Linked DNA regions of Homo sapiens: all the other regions are linked to region 1. The links come from fine-mapping of genetic effects on gene expression. A gene starts in region 1. Each other region holds a variant in brackets. All regions are shown on one strand. Distances are between the middles of the regions.

Region 1 (8,223 bases):
CTCTGGGGTTCAAGTGATTCTCCTGCCTCAGCCTCCCAAGTCACTGGGATTACAGGCACGTACCACCATGCCTGGCTAATTTTTGTATTTTTAGTAGAGACGGGGTTTCACCATGTTGGCCAGGCTGGTCTCGAACTCCTGACCTCATGATCCATCTGCCTTGGCCTCCCAAAGTGCTGGGATTACAGGCGTGAGCCACTGCCCCCGGCCAAATGTGATATTATATGTACAGCACTTTGCACAATGCCAGAATGTGCATCGATGGTGCAATCACAGAATGTGCATCAATGTTAATTATTGTTGTTTTTCAAATACAATAGTTCTCCTTTATCCTCAGGTGTACCTGCAAGTGGATGCCTGAAAACATAAATAGTACTGAACTTTATATATACTGTGTTTTTTCTATATATATACATCTATGATAAAGTTTAATTTATAAATTAGGCACAGTAAGAGATTAATAACAACTATTAATAAAATGGGACAATTATAACAATATACTGTATTCAGTTTTGTGAATGTGGTCTCTCTCTCAAAATGTCTTACTGTACTGTATTCACCCTTCTTCTTGAGATTATGCGTGATGTCAAAATCCCTATGTGATGAGATGAAGTAAGGTGAATGACACAGGCATTATGAGGTAGTGTTAGGCTACTACTGACCATCTGAGATGTCAGGAGGACCATCTGCTTTGGGTGATCCTGGATCATTGAGCTATGACGATGTCAGTGGTTGGATATCAGGATCAGACGATGTCAACCAATGATTGGGGGTCCTTGGATAATTGCGTTTTTGCCAAAAACTTTTGGAAGAACATTATTACTGGAAGTTGTCTCTTTCTTTCTTTTTCTGAGATAGCATCTCAGTCTGTTGCCCAGGTTTCAGTGCAGTGGTGTGATCATGGCTCACTGCAGCCTCAACCTCCTGGGCTCAGGTGATCCTCCCACCTCAGCCTCCTGAGTAGCTGGGACTGCAGGTGTGCGCCACCACACCCAGCTAGTTTTTTGCATTTTTTGTAGAGATGAGGTTTCACCATGTTGCCCAGGCTGGTCTCAAACCTGTGAGCTCGAGTGACCCGCCTACCTCAGCATCCCAAAGTGCTGAGATTACAAGCGTGAGCCGCTGCACCTGGCCATCTCTTTCTATTTAATTCTTTTTTTTTTTTTTTTTTTTGAGACAGAGTCTCTGTCGCCCAGGCTGGAGTGCAGTGGCGCAATCTCGGCTCACTGCAACCTCTGCCTCTTGGGTTCAAGCAATTCTTCTGCCTTAGCCTCCCAAGTAGCTAGGATTACAGGTGCACGCCACCATGCCTGGTGAATTTTTGTATTTTTAGTAGAGACAGGATTTCACCACGATGGCCGGGCTGGTCTCAAACTCCGGGCCTCAAGTGATCTGCCCACCTCGGCCTCCCAAAGTCCTAGGATTACAGGTGTTAGCCACTATGCCTGGCCTCTTTCTTTTTAATTCATAGAAGTGTGGCTGCAGAAGTTGTAATCCTTTGGTGACCACACGAGTGGTTTTAATGCTGTGTTCTATCTGAGGATTGAATTCCATAATTTTGTCCTTTAATGTCTGTGCAATTTGAAACACTCGGCAAATTTTGATAACACCCATATTGCTGGTTCTGTTTCTGTTTCTCCTTCATTTTCCTCTTTCTTTGTAGATGACTTGACAAGTTCTTCCAATTCCACATTTGTTAACACTTCCCAGTGGCCTTCAATATGATCTTCCACTTCTTCATCAAGCATGTCCCCAAATCCTTCTCCACCAACTTGTCTTGCTGTAGCCTCTCCAGTAATATTTATTTATTTATTTGTGACAGGGTCTCACTCTGTCACCCAGGCTCGAGTGCAGTGGTGAGATCACAGCTCACTGCAGTTTCAAACTCCCAGGCTCAGATGATCTTCATGGCTCAGTCTCCTGAGCAGCTGGGACTATAGGCCTGTGCCATCATGCCCAGCTAAATTTTGTATTTTTTGTAGGGATGGGGTTTCGCCATGTTGCCCAGGCTGGCCTCAACTCCTGGGCTCAAGCGATCCACCTGCCTTGGTCTCCCAAAATGCTGGAATTACAGGCGTGAGTCACCGCACCCAACCTCCAGTAACTTTTTTTTTTTTTTTTGACACGGAGCCTCGCTCTGTTGCCCAGGCTGGAGTGCAGTGGTGCCATCTCGGCTCACTGCCAGCTCTGCCTCCCGGGTTCACGCCATTCTCCTGCCTCAGCCTCCTGAGTAGCTGGGACTACAGGCGCGTGCCACCATGCCTGGCTAATTTTTTTGTATTTTTAGTAGAGATGGAGTTTCACCGTGTTAGCCAGGATGATCTTGATCTCCTGACCTCGTGATCCGCCCGCCTCGGCCTCCCAAAGTCCTGGGATTACAGGCATGAGCCACCGCGCCCGGCCTTTTTTTTTTTTTTTTTTTTGACACGGAGTCTCTCTCTGTCGCCCAGGCTGGAGTGCAGTGGCGCAATCTCGGCTCACTGCAAGCTCTGCCTCCTGGGTTCACGCCATTCTCCTGCCTCAGCCTCCAGAGTAGCTGGGACTACAGGCACCCGCCGCCACCATGCCAGGCTAATTTTTTGTATTTTTAGTAGAGACGGGGTTTCACCTTGTTAGCCAGGATGGTCTCGATCTCCTGACCTCGTGATCCGCCCGCCTTGGCCTCCCAAAGTGCTGGGATTACAGGCGTGAGCCACCGCGCCCGGCTCCAGTAATTTTTTTTTTCTTTTTGAGACAGAATTTTGCTCTTTTCGCCCAGGCTGGAGTGCAATAGCACGATTTCAGTTTACTGCAACCTCTGCCTCTCAGGTTCAAGTGATTCTCCTGCCTCAGCCTCCCAAGTAGCTGGGATTACAGGCGTGCGCCACCACGCCCAGCTAATTTTTTTATTTTTATTTTTTATTTTTAGTAGAGATGGGGTTTCACCACGTTGGCCAGGCTGGTCTCAAACTCCTGACCTCAGGTGATCCATCCGCCTAGGCCTGCCAGAGTGCTGAGATTACAGGTGTGAGCCACTGTGCCCAGCCCATCCAGTAATTTTTATATTTTGCAGTCTAAACCTATTCCTAAGTCAGTGCAACCATCCATTACTTTCAGTAAGTGGCTTGGTGCCACTGGTTTTAGGAGATTCCTTGCTGAAGCCTTTATACAGGCTCAATGCTTTCTGGGGGGTAACAGGTTGCTGTCAGTTGGAACACATTTTTTGTTCGTGTCTTCCACGTATAAGCTTAATGCTTTTTCTTTTCTTTTGTAAAAAAATTTATTTTCTTTTTTTCCCCTGTAAGTAAGGATACAACTTAATGCCTTTTCTATCTTAACTAAGCACTTATCACACACTGTGGCTGTAACTTTTGCAGTTTGAGGTACGACAGCAAAACCAGCATGAATTTCTTTTTCCTCTTTCACAATTCTAGGGCTAGAAGATTCGTTCTTACTGCAGACCTCAGTAAGCTCAGCATACGATTTTTTTTCTTAAGCTCAGAACTTCCACATTTACATTTAAAGGAAGCACTTTACAGCTTCATTTTGGCATATCCAAACTGCCAGCATTACTACTCTTGCACTTTGGGGCCATTATATAGTAAAATGAGGGTTACTCGAACCAAAGCACTGCAACACCGTGGCAGTCCATCTGATAACTCCTAAGCTGGTAAGTAACTAACAGATGGTAGAGGTATGTTGGACAAAGGGATGATTCACATTGCAGGTAGGATGGAACAGGATAGCACGAGATTTCATTAGGCCAATGGAAATTAAAAACTTATGAACTGTTTATTTCTGGAATTTTCTATTTAATACTGTCAGACCTTAGCTGGCCAAGTGAAACTACTCAAAGTAAAATCTCAGATAAGGGGGACACTACCGTACTTAACTGGAGAAGATACTGCTTTGCTTCTGTGACCACAGAATTGACAGGTTGAAATTGGAAACAACTGTTGCCTTCACGCTTTTAAGACAACTTCACATGAATATACATGTGAAGTTCAAGCATGGCAGTATCCCATACTAGCAATAAATTTTTGAGCAGTGTTGCACACTTACTGTCATTTCTCTTACTGTTCTGCCACTCCTACAGAGCGCAGGCCAAGGAGACTACATTTCCCAGAATGCCACACGCCCTTTGACCCCAGCTACAGCAAAAGACGCGCCGGGGAGCGCCTGAAGCCGGAAGACTATAGCTTCCCGGCATGCAGCACGCTTCCCCCTATTAGATTTGAGGCGCGGCCGGCGCGTTGCCCACTGGGAGTTGTAGTCAGTGGCGCGTTGCCCTGACGCCTGCCGGGCCGGGCGTGGGGGCCTGTGGGAGGTGGCGCGGCCGGGCCCAGCTGCGGGGCGGAGGCGGAGGCGGAGGAGAGGCCTGCGGCGGCAGGGAGCGGCGGGACTGGGAGCGGGCGCCGGAGCCGACCCGAGCCGAGCCGAGCCGAGCCGAGCCGGAGCGGGCGGCGAAGGCCGGCGCGGCGAGCAGCAACCATGTCGGTGTTCGGGAAGCTGTTCGGGGCTGGAGGGGGTAAGGCCGGCAAGGGCGGCCCGACCCCCCAGGAGGCCATCCAGCGGCTGCGGGACACGGAAGAGATGTTAAGCAAGAAACAGGAGTTCCTGGAGAAGAAAATCGAGCAGGAGCTGACGGCCGCCAAGAAGCACGGCACCAAAAACAAGCGCGGTGAGGCTGCCCGGCCCCTTCAGACTTGCCACGGGCTCCCCCCAGGCTCCCCGGGCCCGGACTTCACCTTCATCAGACTCGCCTCGGGGTCTGGTCTGACCCTGGAACTCTCCGGGTCAGACTTCTTGCCGGGTCTGGGACCCCCTCCCCGACTCCCTTCAATGTCTCCCCGATCCCTGGACTTTTCCATCGTCAGACTTATTCTGCCCTCTCCCCTCAGCCTCTCTCCACCCCGCCAGGTCCCTTCAGACCCCAATCTCACAGCACTTTCCTCCGCCCTCACTCTGTCCCTTTCTCTTCCGCCTTTTCCTTCTCGCCTCACCCACCTGCCTAGCTACTGCCCCTGCCTCCTCCTCGGCTCATTTCTGCCCCCATCCTAGCATTTCTGTGCTTCCTGGTCCTACCTGTGCCCTCTCCCGACTCCTCGGTGGAATCTGTGAGCTGCCCCTTGGCCTCTCCCCTGTCCTCTTGTCTCAGAATTCTCGTTGAAAAGCCTCCTTGCTGGAGAGAAAAGGGGACTGGGGGAGATGAGACCCCCGATTCCTGCTCTATTCACTTGCTGAGTGAACTTGAGCAAGTTGCTTTCCCTTTGAGGCCTCAGTTTCCCCATCCGTCAGCCAGAGTTCGGCCTCTGTTGAGGCCTAAGGTGTTTTCCAGCGTTGTGATTCACTTTTTGTTGCCTCGTAGCTTGACCTTACCAAAGTTTCCCGTGGCGCAAGCCTTCACCCCATGACTCACCGCTTCCCCATCCGTCTGAACCAGAAATAGAGACTCCCGACTGCTCCCCAGTCCCCACTACTAGGATTCAGGGCCCCAGTATTGAATCTTGAGGCACTGCTTACTTTACTTCCTGTTGTCGTATGGCTTTCTGGGCATTCCAAGTGCTTTGTGTTTTTCTTAAGTGAGATGAATGTGAAAATGCTTTAAAACTGTAAAGCAGTTTAGAAATGTTTGCTTTTTCTTGTTATGGCCATGTGAGAGTGAATCACAGAACGACATCCCTTCCCCTTGAGAGGGGTTTAGGATTGAGGTAATTCACTCAGAAGTCTGCTAGTGACTAGCAGTGCGACCTTGAGCTCATTTACCTTTCTGAAAGGAAAATCATGGATTTACAGTGCTCAGCACATAGTAGGGGCTAAATCGATGTTTTCTCCATTCTAATAGGAGAACAAAATAGCCTATCTGGAGGATGCTTCTCTGCTGATAGTCAACAGATATTCTGGAAATTCTTTTTAGTGCCTGCTGCATGCGCTGTATTCATAGGGGTGAACAAAACACGGCCTCAACCCTAATGGGAGAGAAGACAGAAACAGGAAAATAAATGAAGAAAATATTGTCCGGGGGTGATAAGTACTAAACACACAAAAAGATGGTCTGATAGGGAGTGGTGGAGTGGGAGGGATGCCACTTTGGATAGAATGGTCAGGGAAGGCGTCTTTGAAAAGGTAAAGTTTGAACTGAGTCTGGAGAAGGAACCAGCTCTGTAAAAAAAAAAAAAAAAGGGGGAGGAGCCTTCTGGGCGTGGAAAGCAGCATGGGAAAAGGCTCGGAGGTTAGCAGGTTGTAAGAAACCGAAGAGAGAGACCCTTGTGTCCAGAATGTAGTGCTTGGAGGGAGAGTGGTATGGAATAAAGGGGGCGGGGCTTGGACTTTGAACCTGTTGGTGAAGAGTTTGAATTTTATTCCAAGTGGATGGAAAGTTTTTGGAGAGTATTTTGTTGGAACGTGTCCTTATTGACAGAGTTTTTAAAACATCATCTGGCTGCTCTTTGGAGAGTGGGTGGGGGATGCGGGTGGGAGCAGGGAGAACAGTGAGGAGGCAGCTGCAGTGGTCCATTTGTGGCTTGGACTCCAGCTTAGTTGTGGAGATGGGAACAGGGTTATATTTTGCTGTCTCTAGCTTTTTCCTCTGATGACTCTCCCTCAGTCCAGATCCTCTGTTTATGGTCATCAGAATCAGTGTTTTTAGCTTTCTGCATTTTGGAATGCAGGAGGAGGGTGTCAGTTTACCATTTTCCTCTGATCTTTTGGTCTGGAGCTAGCTTAGTTTCTGGAGTTTGTTTTTTTGTTTGTTTGTTTGTTTGTTTGTTTTTGAAACGGAGTCTCGCTCTGTTGCCCAGGCTGGAGTGCAGTGGTGCGATCTCAGCTCACTGCAACCTCTGCCTTCTGGGTTCAAATGATTCTCCTGCGTCAGCCTCCTGAGTAGCTGGGATTACAGGTGCACGCCACCATGCCTGGCTAATTTTTGTATTTTTAGTAGAGATGGGGTTTCACCATGTTGGTCAGGCTGGTCTTGAACACCTGACCTCATGATCTGCCTGCCTCGGCCTCCCAAAGTGCTGGGATTATGGGCATGAGCCATCGCACCCAGCCGTTTCTGCAGTTTTGGCGATCGAATTGACTTTCAAGGGGCTGCAGGAGAGCTCGCCAGCCAACTGTGGAGGACCAATCTCAGTTGTCAGACTTGCTGAAGGCAGGCTGTCTCCCTGAGTTTGCTTGAGAGGATGGGAGCTACTGTAACCTACCCTTCTTTTTAGCATCCTCTAGGAGGAAGGTCTTAGTGTGGGGAGGTGAACACTACCACATTACCATTCAGTTAGTCTGCTTATTCACCTGCCACTATGCTGGGACCTTGAGAGTCAGAGATGAAAATACACTGTGTCAGCCCTTCAGGAACTCAGAATTGGAAGTGTGGGGTGGGAGTGTATGTGCGTGTGAGAGAGCAGGAAATGATTATAACAGTGCAGAAACATGAGTGTGTACATGGGCTGAGGCTGCAGAGGAGGCGGCACCTGTTTGGGGGGAAGGATAAAGAAGACTTGGCAGAGGAAGGAGAACGTGAGGTGGGTCAGCAAGGAGTTGGGTGTGTTTGGGAGGCAGTGACAGTGTCGCCTCTGGAGTCTGTGGGTGGGACAGGAGATAACACTGAGAGTGGCCTGTAGTCTTTGGACCTTGACCTGGAAGTAGTGAGGAGCCCTTAGCTGTCCTTTATTTTTATTTATTCATTCACTTTAAGCAACAGGGTCTTGCTCTGACATCCAGGCCGAAGTGCAGTGGTGCAGTTATAGCTCAGTGCAGCCTGGCACTCCTGGGCTCAAATGATCCTCTCACTTCAGCCTCCTGAGTAGCTAGGACTTCAGGCACATGCCTAGCTAATTCAAAACATTTTTTTTTGTAGGGACAAGGTCTCGCTCTGTTGCCCAGGCTGGTCTCAAACTCCTGGCCTCGAGCGATTCTCCCGTATTAGCCTCCCAAAGTGTTGGGATTACAGCCACTGTGCTCAGCCCTTGGCTGGCTTTTAAAGCAGAGAGTCATCATATCTGTTTGGAATTTTGAAAGAGCACTCTAGCAGCAGCTTAAAGGAAGAAGTGTAGACTGACCAGGAAGGGACTGGAGGCAAGAATCCCATCAGGGGCAAGGATAGTGCCTTTCAGACCTGGGTTTGAGCTGCAGCTTCATCATTTCCTTGCTGGGTACCTGGGGCAGGTTACTCTGTACCTCAGATTCCTCCTCCACAAATCAGGGTACTAGTATCTGCCTGATTGGATGAAAATATGTTACGCA
Region 2 (8,000 bases), 22 kb after region 1:
TTCGTTGAGGTATAACGTATAGTAAGCAGATAAGTCTCAGGTGACACCTGAATGAGTTTTTTAAATGTATACACTTGTGTAACCATCACATAGATCAAGATATGAGAACATTCCAGCACTCAGCAGTCTGGAGGGTTTATAGCAGTCTAGGACTTGAGAAGAGAACAATATTTGTTTATTCTGGCCCCTTTTAGAATCTCAGAGGCCATTTATCCTTCTGTTACTCATTCAACATGTTTCCCAAACACCTTGTAGTACAGGGCACAGTGCTAGGTATTGCTGGGAGTACAGAAATGAAGAATTGTTGGCCTCTGTCTTGGGCTCACAGCCCATTAGGGATTATGACTTGAATCCAAGGGAGAAAGCGAGAAGAGCTGCGAGGAAGCTTGGAGGAGAGAGGCTGCTTCTTGCTGGGAGAGAGGAGGGTGTGTGGTATTTATGTAGACACAGAATTTTCCCCAGTTCTCTCTGTTTATAAACATAGGAAAGGGACCAGATTATGAACTTCAGCCCCTTCTCAGCCAGTTCTTTGCATTCTCAGACCACATTGGGTACTTGGAGAGGTGCAGGCCCAGCCGAGAATGCCCATCTGTGGTGTTTGCTCAGCTTTGCCTTTCCCTTGGGAAGCAGAAACAAACTCAGGCAAAAATAAGAGACACTTCCCTCCCTTTCTTTGGCCCCTAGGCTCTAAGGAACTGATTTCCCTTCTGTATTGGGTCTTAAGGCTATAAGGCCACAAATCTGTGAATTAATTTTGGCCTGAATTTCTTTCTTTGCCCTCTTTGGTTGAGTAATTAAAAATTTCAATTTCTTATGTGAAACCAGACCCCAGAAAGACTTTCCTGATCATTTTCATGTATGAGAAATAAGTTTTAGATTTTCTTTTAATTGGCTAATATATGCACGTACAGCTCTGTAGTTGGTAGGAAAGGAGGAGGCTGTATCCAGAGTAGACACATGGTGATCCCTTTCCTTAAAGAGAGTCTCCGGAGATAGTTTAAGACCAGTGCCTAATGTAGGGTCAGCCTGAAGAGATAACACCACAGGACATCTGAGCATTATAGAACCACATCTTGGTACATGTGTAGACAGACAGTAGATAGTAGATAGGAAGGGAAGAAGGGCAGATGGCTCTGCCTGGCTGAATCTTGTTCAGGTTCTGATGAGTTACTGGGTCTGGGAAATATAAACGACTTGAGAGATCATCTGGGCCCATTCCCCCACTCCCATTTTACAAATGAGGAAACAGACTTTGATTTGACCAGATCTGACTGGCAGCAGAGCTGGAACCAGAACCAGGTCTCACGTGTGGTGGAGAATGAAGACATTCTGGTGGAGTGCTCAGCAGGATGTGGAAGGAAGCTTGGCTGGGAGAGGGTGGTGGTGAAGAGGAAGATGAAAGGAGTGGCAGAAGCATTTGGTGGTTCCCTCAGCATATGGAGCCAGGAAAAGCAAGGCGCTGGGTGGGAGAGACACTGAGGCTGTTGATCATCTCAGGGGAGGGACCTGAAAGCCCTACAGCAAGAGGGTATGGGGGATACTGTGGCCAGGCTGAAAGATTTTGAATGGCTTGGACATCTATAGTGCTTATCTTCCTTGTGTTAGTTAGCTTGGGCTGCCATAACAAAATACCATAGACTGGGTGGTTTAAGCAACAGAAATTTATTTTCTCAGTTCTGGAGACTCAGTCGATGGTCAAGGTGCTGGGTAATTCCGTTTCTGGTGAGAGCCCTCTTCCCAGCTGGAAGACAGCTGCCTTCTTGCTGTGTCCTCACATGGCCTTTCTGTGGAGTGTGTGTTGTGCATTGCAGGGAGTGGATAGAGAGCGGGGGCGTCTCTCTTCCTATAAGGCTAATAGTCCTGTCAGATTAGGGCCCCATCCTTGTGATGTCAGTTAGCCTTAATGACCTCCAAGAGGCCCCATCTCCAAATGCAGCCACACTGGGGCCAGGGCTTCAGCATATGAATTCTGGGGGGATACAGGTCAGTCCATAGCACTCCTTAGCTTTTTGTTTTCTGATTGACTACTTTAGGACCCGTGAGGTATTGTTTTTCTTGGTAGGGAGGCTGCTTTCTGACATTCCTTTCTTTACATTATTTTCTAAACAATCAGATTATAATCTAGCACTGTGAATTAATTGTTCAAAGGAACAGAGTTTTTTTTTTTTTTTTAGTTTTTTTGAGACAGGGTCCTGCTCTGTCACTCAGGCTGGAATACACTGGCATGAAAATGGCTCATTGCAGCCTGGACCTCCACAGCTCAAGGGATCCTCCCACCTCAGCCTCCCAGGTAGCTGAGACTGCCTATGCTCAGCTAATTTTTTTTTTTTTTTTTTCCAGATAGCTTTGTCACAAGACTCAGGCTGGAGTGCAGTGGCGTGATCTTGGCTCACTGCAACCTCCACCTCCTGGGTTCAAGCGATTCTCCTGCCTCAGCCTCCAGAGTAGCTAGGATTACAGGCACGTACCACCACGCCTGGCTATTTTTAGTGGAGACGGGGTTTCACCATGTTGGCCAGGCTGGTCTCGAACTCCTGACCTCAAGTGATCCGCCCACCTCGGCCTTCCAAAGTGCTGGGATTACAGGCATGAGCCACTGCACCCGGCCGTCCAGCTAAGTTTTAAAAGTTTCTGTGAAGATGAGGTTTCGCTGTGTTGGCCAGGCTGGTCTTAAACTCCTGACCTCAAGTGATCCGCCCACCTTGGCCTCCCAAAGTGCTGGGATTACAGGTGTTAGCCACCGTGCCTGGCTGCCCAGCTAAGTTTTAAAAATTTTTGTGGAGATGAGGTTTCGCTATGTTGCCCAGGCTGGTCTTGAACTCGTGGCCTCAAGTGATCCTCCTGCTTTGGCCTCCCAAGGTGCTAGGATTACAGGCATGAGCCACTGCACCTGGCCTCAGAGATTATGTTCTCTCAGTGTTTCAGTGTCTGGTAATTCTGTGCAGTTTGGAGTTTGTTCTTTAATTTTATTATTTTCACATATACAGTTGTAATCGACAGTGTTCAGCAGGGAAGATCGGATAACAAACCCATGAACCAGACTGTTTTTGTTTTTTAATTGCGCTAAGGTATACATAACATTACAGGTGTGAGCCACCGTGTCTGACCTGTGCCCCATTTTTTAAGGACAAGGCAAGACTACCTTTTCCCGAAAGAGAATCAGCTTCCTGTGCCCTTCACCCCTTGCTGCCTCCTGGGCAAGGAAAATCATTTGTCTGCAACCCCTTCATCATGTCTCTCTTGATTCCAAAAGCATAAAAGGCTGGTTGGGTTTTCCCTCTTGCCTTGCTTTTCTAACAAGCGCGCACATTGGAAGTATTTTTCTGCCGGCATTTCACTCTCTTCCCAACTTCCCCACAAACGTCCCCAGCCCCCATACCTCCGTTGTCATCTCGGTTGCCAGGGTGCTCTCATGCTTGCTCAGGCAGAAGGGGGCCCTTGTTGGCATGGATTCAGCTGGAAGCAGAGGAAGAAAAGCCAGTCGGAAAAG[A/G]AAGAGTGCATCCCAGCCTGGGAACGGAAACCCAAAGCAGGCTGTTTCCCCTCTGTCCCAGCCAAGAACCTGGTCACCTCTCAGCAAGCCTGGCTAAGAGCATCCAGCCTGGGACCTGGCGGGTGGGGGAGGAGCTCAATCAGTGCCTTCATTCCACCCGAGGGCCACACCAAAGCGCCAGTGCCAGTCATAATCAGGTTGTTCTTAGTAAATGATTTGCTTTTTAAAATATAACTGTCTTTCCATGTCTGGGGATGAGGAAGAAATAGGCTGTTGTTTTTGTTTGTTTTGATTAGGTAGTCATGTAAATGGTACATAATTTTAAAAGTGCCTTCGTTGCCTCAGTCACTCCCTTCCTAGAAATGACCAATTACAAGGCCCTGAGGTAGTCTCTGCAATTAAAAACATGTACCATACCTATGTATTCTCCTGAGACACGCCCATGTATGAATGGTAGTAATTAGGTTACCTTTGAATCCTGTGCTCTTTATAGTTTTACAATAAATGATTTTTTTTTTTTTTTTTTAAAGAGACAGGGTCTCGTTCTGTTGCCCAGGCTGGAGTGCATTGGCGCAATCATAGCTCACTGTAACCTCAAACTCCTGGTCTCAAGCAATCCTCTCGCCTCAGCCTCCCAAATAGCTATGACTACAGGTGTGCACCACCATGCCTGGCTAATTAAAAAAAAATTTTTTTTTTTTTGTAGAGACAGGGTCTTACTATGTTGCCTAGGCTGATCTCAAACTCCTGGCCTCAAGCGAACCTCCTGCTTTGGCCTCCCAAAGTGCTGGGATTGTAGGTGTGAGCCACCACGGCCAGCCAGAAGTGATTTGGATTTGACCCACTCTGAAGTCCCTGAACTCCATCTTCCTCATATGGATTTAGAGAAGGTTAATTCAAACTTCAGGTGCTAACTTGAATTTTGAAGCCCATGGCCCCACAGAAAGATCTGGGAGAATAGTTTCTCCCTCCCTGCCTTATCTTCTCTTCCCTGAGTTACTGGTCTCTCTGAGAAATGGCATCTCCACCACCTGGTTGCCCCAGCCAGGAACTTGGAACTTATTCCTGACTCAGTCTCCATTTCCTTCTGTTGTACATTCAAACAGGTGATACAGGCCCATGGTCTTCCCTCTTGGTATCTCTCAAGTTCACCCTCTCCTGGTCAGCCCCTCTGCTGTGGCCTCAGTTCAGGCTCTTGAAATCCACACCCTCTGGATTATTGCAGTGGTTGCCAGCCCCTTCTCCCCACAGCAGCCAGAGGGATCTTTCTGAAATGTAAATCTGATCACGTTCCTGTCCTGCTTTGAATCTTTCAATGGCTTCCTGCTAACCCTGGGATAGATTCCAGCAGCTCCTTAACAAGACATCCAAGTCTGTCCTTGAGTTTCTCTCTTTAGCTTTTATCTTTCCTTGTTCCCTCCCCTATTTTCTCATGCCTCTCTTTTCCTGCTGCTTGGATATATTCCTCTGGGCTCTCTCCTACCATCCTTTAAAATGCATGATAACCCCAAAGGTTAGTTTCCCCCCTCTAGGCATCCACAGTAAGTGTCCTGTGCTGACCTCTGTCATGTATTACATTGTCCATATCTGCTGGCCTGTGAATTCCTTCAGCCTTGGGACTGTATCATTTTTGTCCCTAGTTCCCTAGCAGGGTATCATGAGCAAAGTGTAATTCCTGGTACAGTAGAATGAGCAAAGGAATTGCCTGTTTCATCTAAGCCGTTGCATCCTTTGTAGTATTGGTATGAAGTTGCTTCATCTTTTCTAGTATTGTCATGAAGTTGTTCATAATATCCCCTTTTTATCCTTTTAATATTCCTGGAGTCTGTAGTGATATCACATTTATCATTCTCGATACCAGTAATCTTTTTTTCCTGGTCAGTCTGGCTAGAAGTTCAATCTTGTTGAACTTCTCGAAGAGCCAGAATTTTATTTCATTGACCTTCTTTCTCTTTTGTTTCTTTTTTGTCTTTTATTGATTTTTCACTTCGATCTTTATTCCCTTTCTTCTGCTTACTTTGGATTTTGTTTGCCCTTTATTTGTATTTGTATTTTTTTTTGGAGACAGGTTATCACTCTCTCACCTAGGCTGGAGTGCAGTGGCACAATCATAGCTTACTGCAGCCTCAAACTCCTGGGCTCAAGTGATCTTCCTTGCCTCAGCTTCTCAAGTAGCTGGGGCAGTACAGGTGCCTGCCACCGACTAATTTTTGAAAAAAATTTTTAATAGAAATAAGGTCTTGCCACGTTGCTCAGTCCCAAGCTGGTCTTTTTCTAGCTTGTTAAGGTGGAAGCTGAGGTCCATTTGAGATTGTTCTTTTCTAGTGTAGGCTTTTAGTTCCCTTAAGGTACCACATTGGTGGCATCCCACAAATTTTGATATGTTGTGTTTTTATTTTCATTCAGTTCAAAATACTTTCTGATTTCCCATTTCATTTCTTCTTTGACCTACGGCTTATTTAGAAGTATATTATTTAGTTCCTAAATGTGTGGGGATTTAACAGATTTTCTGTTCGTGATTCCTATTTATTTTATTTTTATTTTTGTTTTGAGATGGAGTCTCACTCTGTCGCCCAACCTGGGGTGCTGTGACGTGTTCTCAGCTGACTGCAATAACCTCCACCTCCTGGGTTCAAGCGATTCTCCTACCTCAGCCTCCCGTGTAACTAGGACTACAGGCACACGCCACCACGCCCAGCTAATTTTTGTAGTAGAGACGAGTTTCACCATGTTGGCCAGGCTGGTCTTGAACTCCTGACCTCAAGGGATCCGCCCGCCTCGGCCTCCCAAAATGCTGGGATTACAAGCGTGAGCCATCGCACCTGGCCTATGATTCCTAATTATTAAATTCCATCCCAGGTGATAGAAGTAATGAGATTCTTTAAAAATATTGCTCCACTGTCTTCTTGCTAGCATCGTTTTCTATGAGAAATCTTTGTCATCTTTATTTCAGTATATGTAATGTATATTTTTTTCTTTGTCTGCTCTTAACATTTTATTACTGATTTTGAGCACTTTTAATATGATGTGCTTTGGTATATGTGGTCTTCTTCAAGTTTCTTAAGCTCCAGGGTCATTGAGCTTCTTGTATCTGTGGGTTTAAAGTTTTCATCAAAGTGGAAAATTTTTGGCCGTTATTTCTTGAAATGTTTATTCACCTGCCCTCCTCCTTTGGGGACTCCAGTTACATGTATATAGGTTACCTGAAGTTATCCCACACCTCACTGCTGCTCTGCTGATGTTTAAAATTATTTTTTCTCTCTGTATTTCATTTTGGATAGTTTTTATTGCTATTCAAGTTTACAAATCTTTTCATCAATGAAGTGTCTGATCTGCTGTTCATCCATGTAATAATTTTAATCTCTAGAAGCTCGATGTAGGTGTTTAAAAAGATTATCTTAGTCTATTTGTGTTGCTATTAAAGAAATACCAGAGGCTGGGGTATGTATAAAGAAAAGAGGTTTATTTGGCTCACAGTTCTGCAGGCTGTATAAGAAGCATGGTGCCAGCATCTGCTGCTGGCGAGGGCTCAGGCTGCATCCACTCATGGTGGAAGGCGAAGGGGAGCTTATGTGTGTGGCGAGAGAGAGAGGAGGAGGTGCCAGGCTCTTTTTAACAACCAGCTCTTTCGGGAACTGAATAAGAACTCACTTACTCCTGGAGAATGGCATTAAGCCATTCCTGAGGGATCCGCCCCCATGATCCAGATGCCTCTCACTAGGCCCCACCTCTGACATTGGTGATGAAATATCAACACGAGACTTGGCAGGGTCAAACAAACCGTATCCAAACCATAGCAAATATCTTCCCTGTTTCTCCTTCGCTTTTTAAGCATATAGACTATAGTTATAACTGTTTTCATCTCTTTGCTAATTTTGACATCTGTGTTAGTTTGGGTTACTTGGAATTTGTTGATTTTACTCTGCATCATGGGTGTTATTTACCCATTTCTTTGCATAAATGGTAGATTTTGATTAGATGTCAAATGTAAATTTTGCCTTGTTGGGTACTGAATATTTCTGTCGTCCTATATTCTTTATGTTTTGGGGGCACAAGTTTTTGGTAACAATTTGCCTTTTGGGTCTTGGGTCTAAGAATTATTAGGCAGGCCCAGAGCAGTGTTTATCTAGTATAGAGCTAGTTAATCCCTACTATTAAGACAAGGCCCTCCTGAAGGCCCTCCAAGAAGAATTATGAGGCTTTTCTAATCTAGCTGAGGAAGAGGCACTATGACTGGCCCCATGTGAGTACTTAATATTATTTATTCTCTGTCATCCTTTTGAGTGGTTCTTTCCCTGGCCTTAGATAGCTTTTTCACACATGGGTGCTGATCAGTATTCTGCTGAATACTTGAGGAGGACCCTCCGTGGCTCTCCAGGGTTTTCTCTCTCCATGCAGCTCTCTCCTCAGGTACTCTCATGAACTCCAGCTGCGTTGGTCTCCCCAGACTCTCAGCTCTATCTCATTAATTCAGGAAGTTGCTGGGCTCTGCCTGGGTTTTCCTTGCCTG
Region 3 (8,272 bases), 65 kb before region 1:
CTGTAAGGGCCTTCTTTTGGAAGTTTCTATGTGAGACTGTGTTCATTTATTCATTCCACAAACATTTTTGTGTACTTGGGAATCACACTAGGGGCAGGGAGATAAATGGCTGGGTTTGAATTATTGTTCTTATAGTTCTTAGCTCTGTGACCGTGGGCAAGTGAGTGAATTTCTCTGTGGTTCAGTTCCTACACCTGTAAAATAGGGACAATTGTTCTGCCTCATAGGAATCTTATGAGAGTACTTGGGATTTGGTTCTAGCTGTTGAAGTTTACCATGGTTTCTACAAGATTAAAGTTTGTTTCTGTGTTACGCGAAGTCCTGATGGGCATTTGGGCATTTGGGGTGGGCATGGTGAGACTCAGACTCCTTCTTTCCTGTGGCTCTACTGCCCTCGAGCTGCAGCCCGGGATGGCTGCTCTAGCTCCCACTTTGATTGGCACATTCCAGCCAACATGAAGGGAAGAAAGAGGGAAGTGGAATTCATACCCTTTCGTTTTGTTTTGTTTTTGAGATGGAGTCTTGCTCTGTCGCCCAGGCTGGAGTGCAGTGGCGCGATCTCGGCTCACTGCAACCTCCGCCTCCCGGGTTCAAGCAATCCTCCTGCCTCAGCCTCCTGAGTAGCTGGGATTACAGGTGCCCGCCACCATGCCCAGCTAATTTTTGTATTTTTAGTAGAGATGGGGTTTCACCACGTTGGTCAGGCTGGTCTCAAACCCCCTGACCTCATGATCACCCGCCTCGGCCTCCCAAAGTGCTGGGATTGCAGGCGTGAGCCACACCGCCCGGCCAAGTCGAGACAGGATTTCATCATGTTGGCCTGGCTGGTCTCGAACTCCTGACCTCAGGTGATCCACCCACTTCAGCTTCCCAAAGTGCAGAGATTACAGGCGTGAACCACCATGCCTGGCCAAAAAACTTCTCTTTAATTAAAAAAAAAAAATAGAGATAGGGTCTCTCTGTGCTGCCCAGGCTGGTCTTGAACTCCTGAGCTCAAGCAATCCTCCCACCTCAGCCTGCCAATGTACTGGGATTGCAGGCATGAGCCACAGTGCCCTGTCCATGCCCTTTCCTTTTCCTTTTATGAGGAAGTTGCAGATACGGTACAGTTCTATTGTTGTCCCATTGGTGAGAATTCTGTCACATGACATTCCTAGCTGCAGAGAAGCCTGGGAAATATATTATTTAACTATGAAGCCATGTTTCCCACTGAAATTTGTATTATTGTATAAGAAGGATACGAGTTGAGAGTGGTGTGCACTATGATCATGCCTGTGAATAGCCACTGTGCTGCAGCCTGGGCAACACAACAGGACCCTGTCTCTCTCTTTTTTTTTTTTTTTTTGAGACGGAGTTTTGCTCATGTTGCCCAGGCTGGAGTGCAATGGCATGATCTTGGCTTACTGCTACCTCTGTCTCCTGGGTTCAAGTGATTCTCCTGCTTCAGCCTCCTGAGTAGCTGGGACTACAGGCACCTGCCACCACACCCGGCTAATTTTTGTATTTTTGGTAGAGACGGGGTTTCGCCATGTTGGCCAGGCTGGTCTCGAACTCGTGACCCTCAGGTGATCCGCCTGCCTCAGCCTCACAAACTGCTGGGATTACAGGCGTGAGCCACCGCACCCTGCCCAATTTTTTTTTTTTTTTTTTTTTTTGAGACAGAGTCTTGCTCTGTTGCCCAGGCTGGAGTGCAGTGGTGTGATCTCGCTCACTGCAACCTCCACCTCCTGGGTTTAAGCAATTCTCCTGCCTCAGCCTCCTGAGTAGCTGAGATTACAGGCATGCACCATCATGCCCAGCTAATTTTGTATTTTTAGGAGAGCTGGGGTTTCACCATGTTGGCCAGGCTGGTCATGAATTCCTGACCTCAAGTGATCCACCCACCTTGGCCTCCCAAAGTGCTAGGATTACAGGTGTGAGTGAGCCACCTCGCCTGGCAACCCGTCTCTTAAAAAAATAAATAAATAAAAAAGGATACAATTAGAATTGAATAACAATTAGACATTTCTGCTACCACATGTTGGGTGCTTGACACAGTGAGCGCATAGCTGTGGTAGGCCCTCAGCAATGGATGGTGTTAACTGTAGTTAATCATTCATTTAGTTTTTCATTCATTCAACAAACGTCCATTGAGAACCTCCTCTGTGTCCAGGAGATATTGTAGTTATGGTGATAAATAAGACACATGTCCTTCCCTTAGGGGACTCACAGTCTGGTGTTGATAAGAAAACTGTTATATGATAGGTGTGCCAGAGGAAGGAACTATAGCCGCTGGCTTTAGAAAAACTTCCTGGAGAGGTCGGTGCAGTGGCTCACGCCTGTAATCCCAGCACTTTGGGAGGCTGAGGTGAGTGGATCCCTTGAGGTCAGGAAGTTCGAGACCAGCCTGGTCAACGTGGTGAAACCCCGTCTCTACTAAAAATACAAAAATTAGCCGGGCGTGGTGGCGCATGCCTGTAATCCCAGCTACTGGGGTGGCTGAGGCAGGAGAATCGCATGAATATGGGAGGCAGAGGTTGCAGAGAGCTGAGATTGTGCCACTGCACCCCAGCCTGGGCAGCAAGAGTGAAACTCTCTCTCAGAAAGAAAAAAAAAAAAAGAAAAGAAAAGGAAAGAAAAAGAAAAAAAGACTTCTTGGAAGAGGTGACAGTCAAGCTGAGGCTTGCAGAACAAGTTGTCCTCAGAGAGGCAGCCTGGCAGGGCGAACGGTGGATGCAAAGGCATGGGAGGAGTATGATCAGGTGGCTCATTTGGGGACTGATGAATAAATTCAGACAGGATAAAGGTTCTGGAGTTCTCAACTTTGTAGTGAACATACTTTACTGTTTTTTGATTTCTAATTAATTGGTACCTGGCCACATATGGCTATCCCTGCAGGAAACTGTGTGGTTTTTTTTCTTTTTTTTGAGATGGAGTCTCGCTCTGTTGCCCAGGCTGGAGTGCAGTGGCACGATCTGGGCTCACTGCAACCTCTGCCTCCTGGGTTCAAGCAATTCTCCTGCCTCAGCCTCCCGAGTAGCTGGGACTATAGGCGCGCACCACCATGCCCAGCTAATTTTTGTATTTTTAGTGGAGATGGGGTTTCGCCATGTTGTCCAGGCTGATCTTGAACTCCTGACCTCAGGTGATCCACCCTCCAAGGCCTCGCAAAGTGCTGGGATTACAGGCATGAGCCACTGTGCCTGGCCACCTGTGTGGCTTCGAAAACTCCCAGGAAGCACATAGTTGATGGCTGACACCTGCATGTCAAGTCGCAGCATGCCCCCCAGATTGCTGCTTGTGGTCAGCTGCAGTTCTCCTGTCTCATACTGTGATGCCCCTTGACATAGTCTTGCTTTTTTTTCATTACTTTACCTTCATCTGTGGCCTCTTCCCACTACTCTGCGGGTATGACCCCAGATGACGAGGATGTATTTCTCTGCGGGAAGTGTAAGAAGCAATTCAACTCGCTGCCAGCGTTTATGACCCACAAGCGGGAACAGTGCCAGGGGAATGCCCCCGCCCTGGCCACAGTCTCACTGGCCACCAACAGCATCTACCCACCTTCGGCAGCACCCACAGCGGTCCAGCAGGCCCCAACTCCTGCCAATCGCCAGGTATTTGTTCATTTATTCATTCAACATGTCTTTTTTGAGGGCCTAACATGCTCAGGCACTGTGCTGGGCACTGGG[G/T]CTATAGCAATGGATAAGACAGACCAAGTCCCTGCCCTTGTGGAGTGGGGCGAGATGGATGGTGCACATGTACTGTTTTCAGCATGTTAAATGCGGAGAGATAGGGGATGCCAGACGGGGATGGGAGGTTTTGCCATATTGTCTATCGTGCTTGGGGAAGAGCTCTGTGAAGAGGTGACCAGGAAGAATACTATATAGCAGGTAAAAGGTTTTGTATGAAAAATCAAATTGTAGAATAATAAGTAGATAATATATTATTATTTTTAAAATCTGAAACAATAGTACTATATAATTTCCGCAGTTACTTAAATAAGTAGGAAGAACATACCAGATAGACCTAAGGAGGTGTGGGAATGAGTTATGCGGCTGGTTTGGGGAAGGAAGCAGGAGCCAGGTGCAGGGATCAGCAGATGCAGAGGCCTTGAGGCAGGAGTGTGCTGGGTTTGTTCCAGAACTATAAGGAGGTGAGAGTGGCTGGGACTGAGTAAGTAGGAAGGTGGGAGGTGCTAGGAGAGGCAGCAGGAGGGTCTTGGCAGATCGTGTAGGGTCTGGGCCTTTTTTTTTTTTTTTTTTTGAGACGGAGTCTTGCTCTGTTGCCCAGGCTGGAGTGCAGTGGCGCCATCTCGGCTCACCGCAAGCTCCGCCTCCTGGGTTCACGCCATTCTCCTGCCTCAGCCTCCCAAGTAGCTGGGACTACAGGTGCCCGCCACCACACCAGGCTGATTTTTGTATTTTTAGTAGAGACGGGGTTTCACCATGTTAGCCAGGATGGTCTCAATCTCCTGACCTCGTGATCTGCCCGCCTCGGCCTCCCAAAGTGCTGGGATTACAGGCGTGAGCCACCGCGCCCGGCCTTTTTTTTTTTTTTTTTTTTTTGAGACGGAGTTTCACTCTTGTTGCCCAGGATGGAGTGCAGTGGCAGGATCTCGGCTCACTGCAACCTCCGCCTCCTGGGTTCAAGTGATTCTCCTGCCTCAGCCTCCAGAGTAGCTGGGACTACAGGCGCGCACCACCACGCCCAGCTGATTTTTGTATTTTTAGTAGAGATGGGGTTTCACCATGTTGGCCAAGATATTCTCGATCTCCTGACCTTGTGATCTCCCCGCCTCGGCCGCCCAAAGTGCCAGGATAACAAGTGTGAGCCACCACACCCAGCCGCTGGGGCTTTTACTGAGAATGACATGGGAGCCATTGGAGGCTGTCAAGCAGAGGAGGGACATAGTGACTTTTATCAGGTCACTCTGGCTGCTGGACAGAGAATAGGTTTTGAGGGAGGGTGAGAGAGAAAGCCAGGAGACCCGTTGAGGGACTGTAGTGCAAATCCAGGCAGTGGATGCGGGTAGCTTGACCAGCATGTTGGCAGTGGAGGTGGTGAGAAAGTGTGAGATTTTAGAAATACTTTGAAGGTGTTGCTGATAGAACTTGTGAATTGATTGGGTGAGGAGTGTGAGATCAAGAAGGGTCACAGAGGACTCCTGATTTAGAGTTGCCACTAGCTGAAGGGAGGAGGCTGTGAGGAGAAGGTTTTGGGGGGATGTCAGGAGTTCAGCTGGGCACGTTGAAGTTGAGATGCCTGCCAACCTTTAAACGGAGGCAGTGACAAAGTAGACAATGTAGATTTCCAAGTCCGGAGGCCAGAGCAGAGGACAAGGCTGGAGGCATCTGGGGAAGCTTCCAGAGTCCTCAGCCGAAAACACGGTTCTGGAGCAAAGACACCCTGGATAGGGGGCTCATAGAAAGACTAAAGGATCCCTCATAAAGGAGGCTGGGCATATCTCAGGATGCCAGGTCAAGGGGTCAGATTTTCAACTGGCTTCCTTTTCTTTCCTTATCCCTTTAGAACATTATCTTCATTCATTGTATAGGTGTCATTTCTGCCATCACTATGAAAGCATTCACCCCAGACCCATAGGACATATAGACTGAAACAGGCATCTTCTGGCATAAAACAGTCATTTTGGCCGGGCGCGGTGGCTCACGCCTGTAATCCCAGCACTTTGGGAGGCCGAGGCGGGCGGATCACGAGGTCAGGAGATCGAGACCATCCCGGCTAAAACGGTGAAACCCCGTCTCTACTAAAAATACAAAAAATTAGCCGGGCGTAGTGGCGGGCGCCTGTAGTCCCAGCTACTTGGGAGGCTGAGGCAGGAGAATGGCGTGGACCCGGGAGGCGGAGCTTGCAGTGAGCCGAGGTCCCGCCACTGCACTCCAGCCTGGGCGACAGAGCGAGACTCCGTCTCAAAAAAAAAAAAAAAAAAAAAAAAAAAACACAGTCATTTTTCTCACTGCTTGACTGTGAGTTTTGCTAGTAGAAAATATTCCCCTCACCATCTCTTACCTTTTTTTTTTTTTTTTTGAGACAAGGTCTTACTGTCGCTCAGGCTGGCCTTGGCTCACTGCAACCTCCATCTGCCAGGTTCAAGTGATTCTCCTGCCTCAGCCTCCTGAGTAGCTGGGACTACAGACACCCGCCACCATGCCCAGCTAATTTTTGTATTTTTATTGGAGATGGGGTTTCACTGTTGGCCAGGCTGGTCTCGAACTCCTGACCTCAAGTGATCCGCCTGTCTTGGCCTCCCAAAGTGCTGGAATTACAGGCATGAGCCACCGTGCCACACCAGATATTCTTCTTGACCTAAGATACTTGTGGACTTCATGTGGACATGTGTTCAGTGTTTCTCTAGCATAGATACAAGGAAGTATTTTTTTTTCTCTTGAGATGGAGTCTCACTCTGTCGCCAGGCTGGAGTGCAGTGGCACGATCTCAGCTCACTGCAACCTCCATCTCCCAGGTTCAAGCGGTTCTCCTGCCTCAGCCTCCTGAGTAGCTGGGACTACAGGCGCGCACTACCACGCCTAGCTACTTTTTGTATTTTTAGTAGAGATGGGGTTTCACCACGTTGGCCAGGATGGTCTCGATCTCTTGACCTCGTGATCTGCCCGCCTCAGCCTCCCAAAGTGCTGGGATTACAGGCGTGAGCCACCATGCCTGGCTGATACAAGGAAGTATTATTACTGAGTCATAGGGTATGTACTTTGCAGAGGGATGTGAGTTATTCTCCTCATTTGTTTTTTCTTTCATTCCGTTTTTGTTTGTTTGTTTTTAGAGACAGAGTCTCTAAAACCACACCAGCTGCGTGCAAAACCACACCGGCTAATTTTTGTATTTTTCTTGTAGAGACAGGGTTTCACCATGTTGCCCAGGCTGGTCTTGAACTCCTGGGTTCAAGTGATTCACCTGCCTCAGCCTCCCAAAATGCTGGGATTATAGTTGTGAGCCACCGTGCCCAGTCTTATCATCCTCATTCAGTAGATGATTAAATGGAGGCACAGAGAGGTAGAGTGACTTGCCCAGGGTCACACAGCAGGGAGCAGCAGAGGTAGAAATGGAATCCACGTCTGTGGGATTCCAGAACCTGGATCTTTTGTGCCATGCCCTCGGCTTACTTACAGAGCCTGACATGTCCACACATGCACACACGCACACATGAGCACACACACACTCTGTCTCTCTCCGTCTCACTCATTCTCTCTCTCCCACTGTCCAGATCTCCACATACATCACAGTGCCCCCGTCCCCACTGATCCAGACCCTGGTGCAGGGGAACATCTTGGTGAGCGATGATGTGCTCATGTCTGCCATGTCAGCCTTCACATCCCTGGACCAGCCCATGCCCCAGGGCCCCCCACCTGTGCAGGTAAGAAGGTGTGGGCTTCTCACAGGGTCTTGATTCCAGACCTGTACATTAACTCCTGCAGATTCAGAATCTTGTAGAATAAAGGGGGCCTGGCCCCAGCTCTCCCTGATGCTGAGGGAGGCTATCAGCTTTCCCTTGTCCAGCTCTGCTATAGATGGGGAAGCTGCTACGTCTAGGTGGGGACCCAGAACATGTGGGGCTTTGTCAATACAGTGCAGCTATTTTGACTTTTTTTTTTGAGATGGAGTCTCACTCTGTTGCCCAGGCTGGAGTGCAGTGGCACGATCTTGGCTCACTGCAACCTCTGCCTCCTGGGTTCAAGTGATTCTTCTGCCTCAGCCTCCTGAGTAGCTGAGATTACAGGCATGTGCCACCACAGCCAGCTAATTTTTTTTTGTATTTTTAGTAGAGACAGGTTTTCTCCATGTTGATCAGGCTGATCACGAACTCTTGACCTCAAGTGAGCCCCCCACCTCAGCCTCCTGAAGTGCTAGGATTACAGGTGTGAGCCACTGTGCCCAGCCAATTTTTGTATTTTTAATGGAGACGGGGTTTCACCATGTTGGCCAGGCTGGTCTCAAACTCCTGACCTCAGGTGATCCTCCCACCTTGGCCTCCCAAAGTGCTGGGATTACAGGATTACAGGTGTGAGCCACTGCACCCAGCCTGACTTTTGTTTTTGTTCTTTTTTTTTTTTTGAGACAGAGTCTTGCTCTGTTGCCCAGGCTGAAGTGCAGTGGTGCGATCTTGGCTCCCTGCAACTTCCACCTCCCAGGTCCAAGCAATTCTCCTGCCTCAACCTCCTGAGTAGCTGGGATTACAGGTGTGCGCCACCACGCCCAGCTGATTTTTGTATTTTTAGTAGAGATGGGGTTTCACTGTGTTGGTCAGGCTGGTCTCAAA

Alleles and levels. Positions count from the first base shown, and alleles are read on the strand shown. Sizes are in standard deviations (SD) of each study's normalised expression. Not every link is listed here.
As copies of G replace A in region 2, the expression in putamen of the gene that starts at base 4,350 in region 1 goes down (small effect, 0.32 SD a copy in GTEx).

The links. PIP is the estimated chance that this variant, and not a neighbour inherited with it, causes the effect.
Region 2: its variant is the best candidate, but not a certain one, in a credible set for the expression of CHMP4B in putamen (GTEx, PIP 0.88).
Region 3: its variant is the best candidate, but not a certain one, in a credible set for the expression of CHMP4B in whole blood (INTERVAL, PIP 0.64).

Annotation. Positions count from the first base shown.
Region 1 is chr20:33,806,999-33,815,221 of GRCh38, forward strand. It overlaps CHMP4B (charged multivesicular body protein 4B), which reads left to right and starts at 4,350. Exons shown (of 5, transcript NM_176812.5): 1 at 4,350-4,660. The coding sequence starts at 4,471. It overlaps ZNF341-AS1 (ZNF341 antisense RNA 1), which reads right to left and starts at 4,101. Exons shown (of 4, transcript NR_110623.1): 1 at 4,042-4,101. RefSeq lists enhancers at 4,025-4,319, 4,059-4,138, 4,905-5,745, 5,574-5,643 and a silencer at 4,199-4,478.
Region 2 is chr20:33,828,778-33,836,777 of GRCh38, forward strand. All of the region lies in intron 1 of CHMP4B (charged multivesicular body protein 4B), which reads left to right. Among named protein-coding and RNA genes, the nearest start is that of CHMP4B, 21 kb to the left of the region's middle. The variant A/G (reference allele first, on the strand shown) is at 3,491.
Region 3 is chr20:33,741,704-33,749,975 of GRCh38, forward strand. ZNF341 (zinc finger protein 341) reads left to right here. Exons shown (of 15, transcript NM_001282933.2): 3 at 3,400-3,596; 4 at 7,220-7,369. Among named protein-coding and RNA genes, the nearest start is that of ZNF341, 14 kb to the left of the region's middle. The variant G/T (reference allele first, on the strand shown) is at 3,672.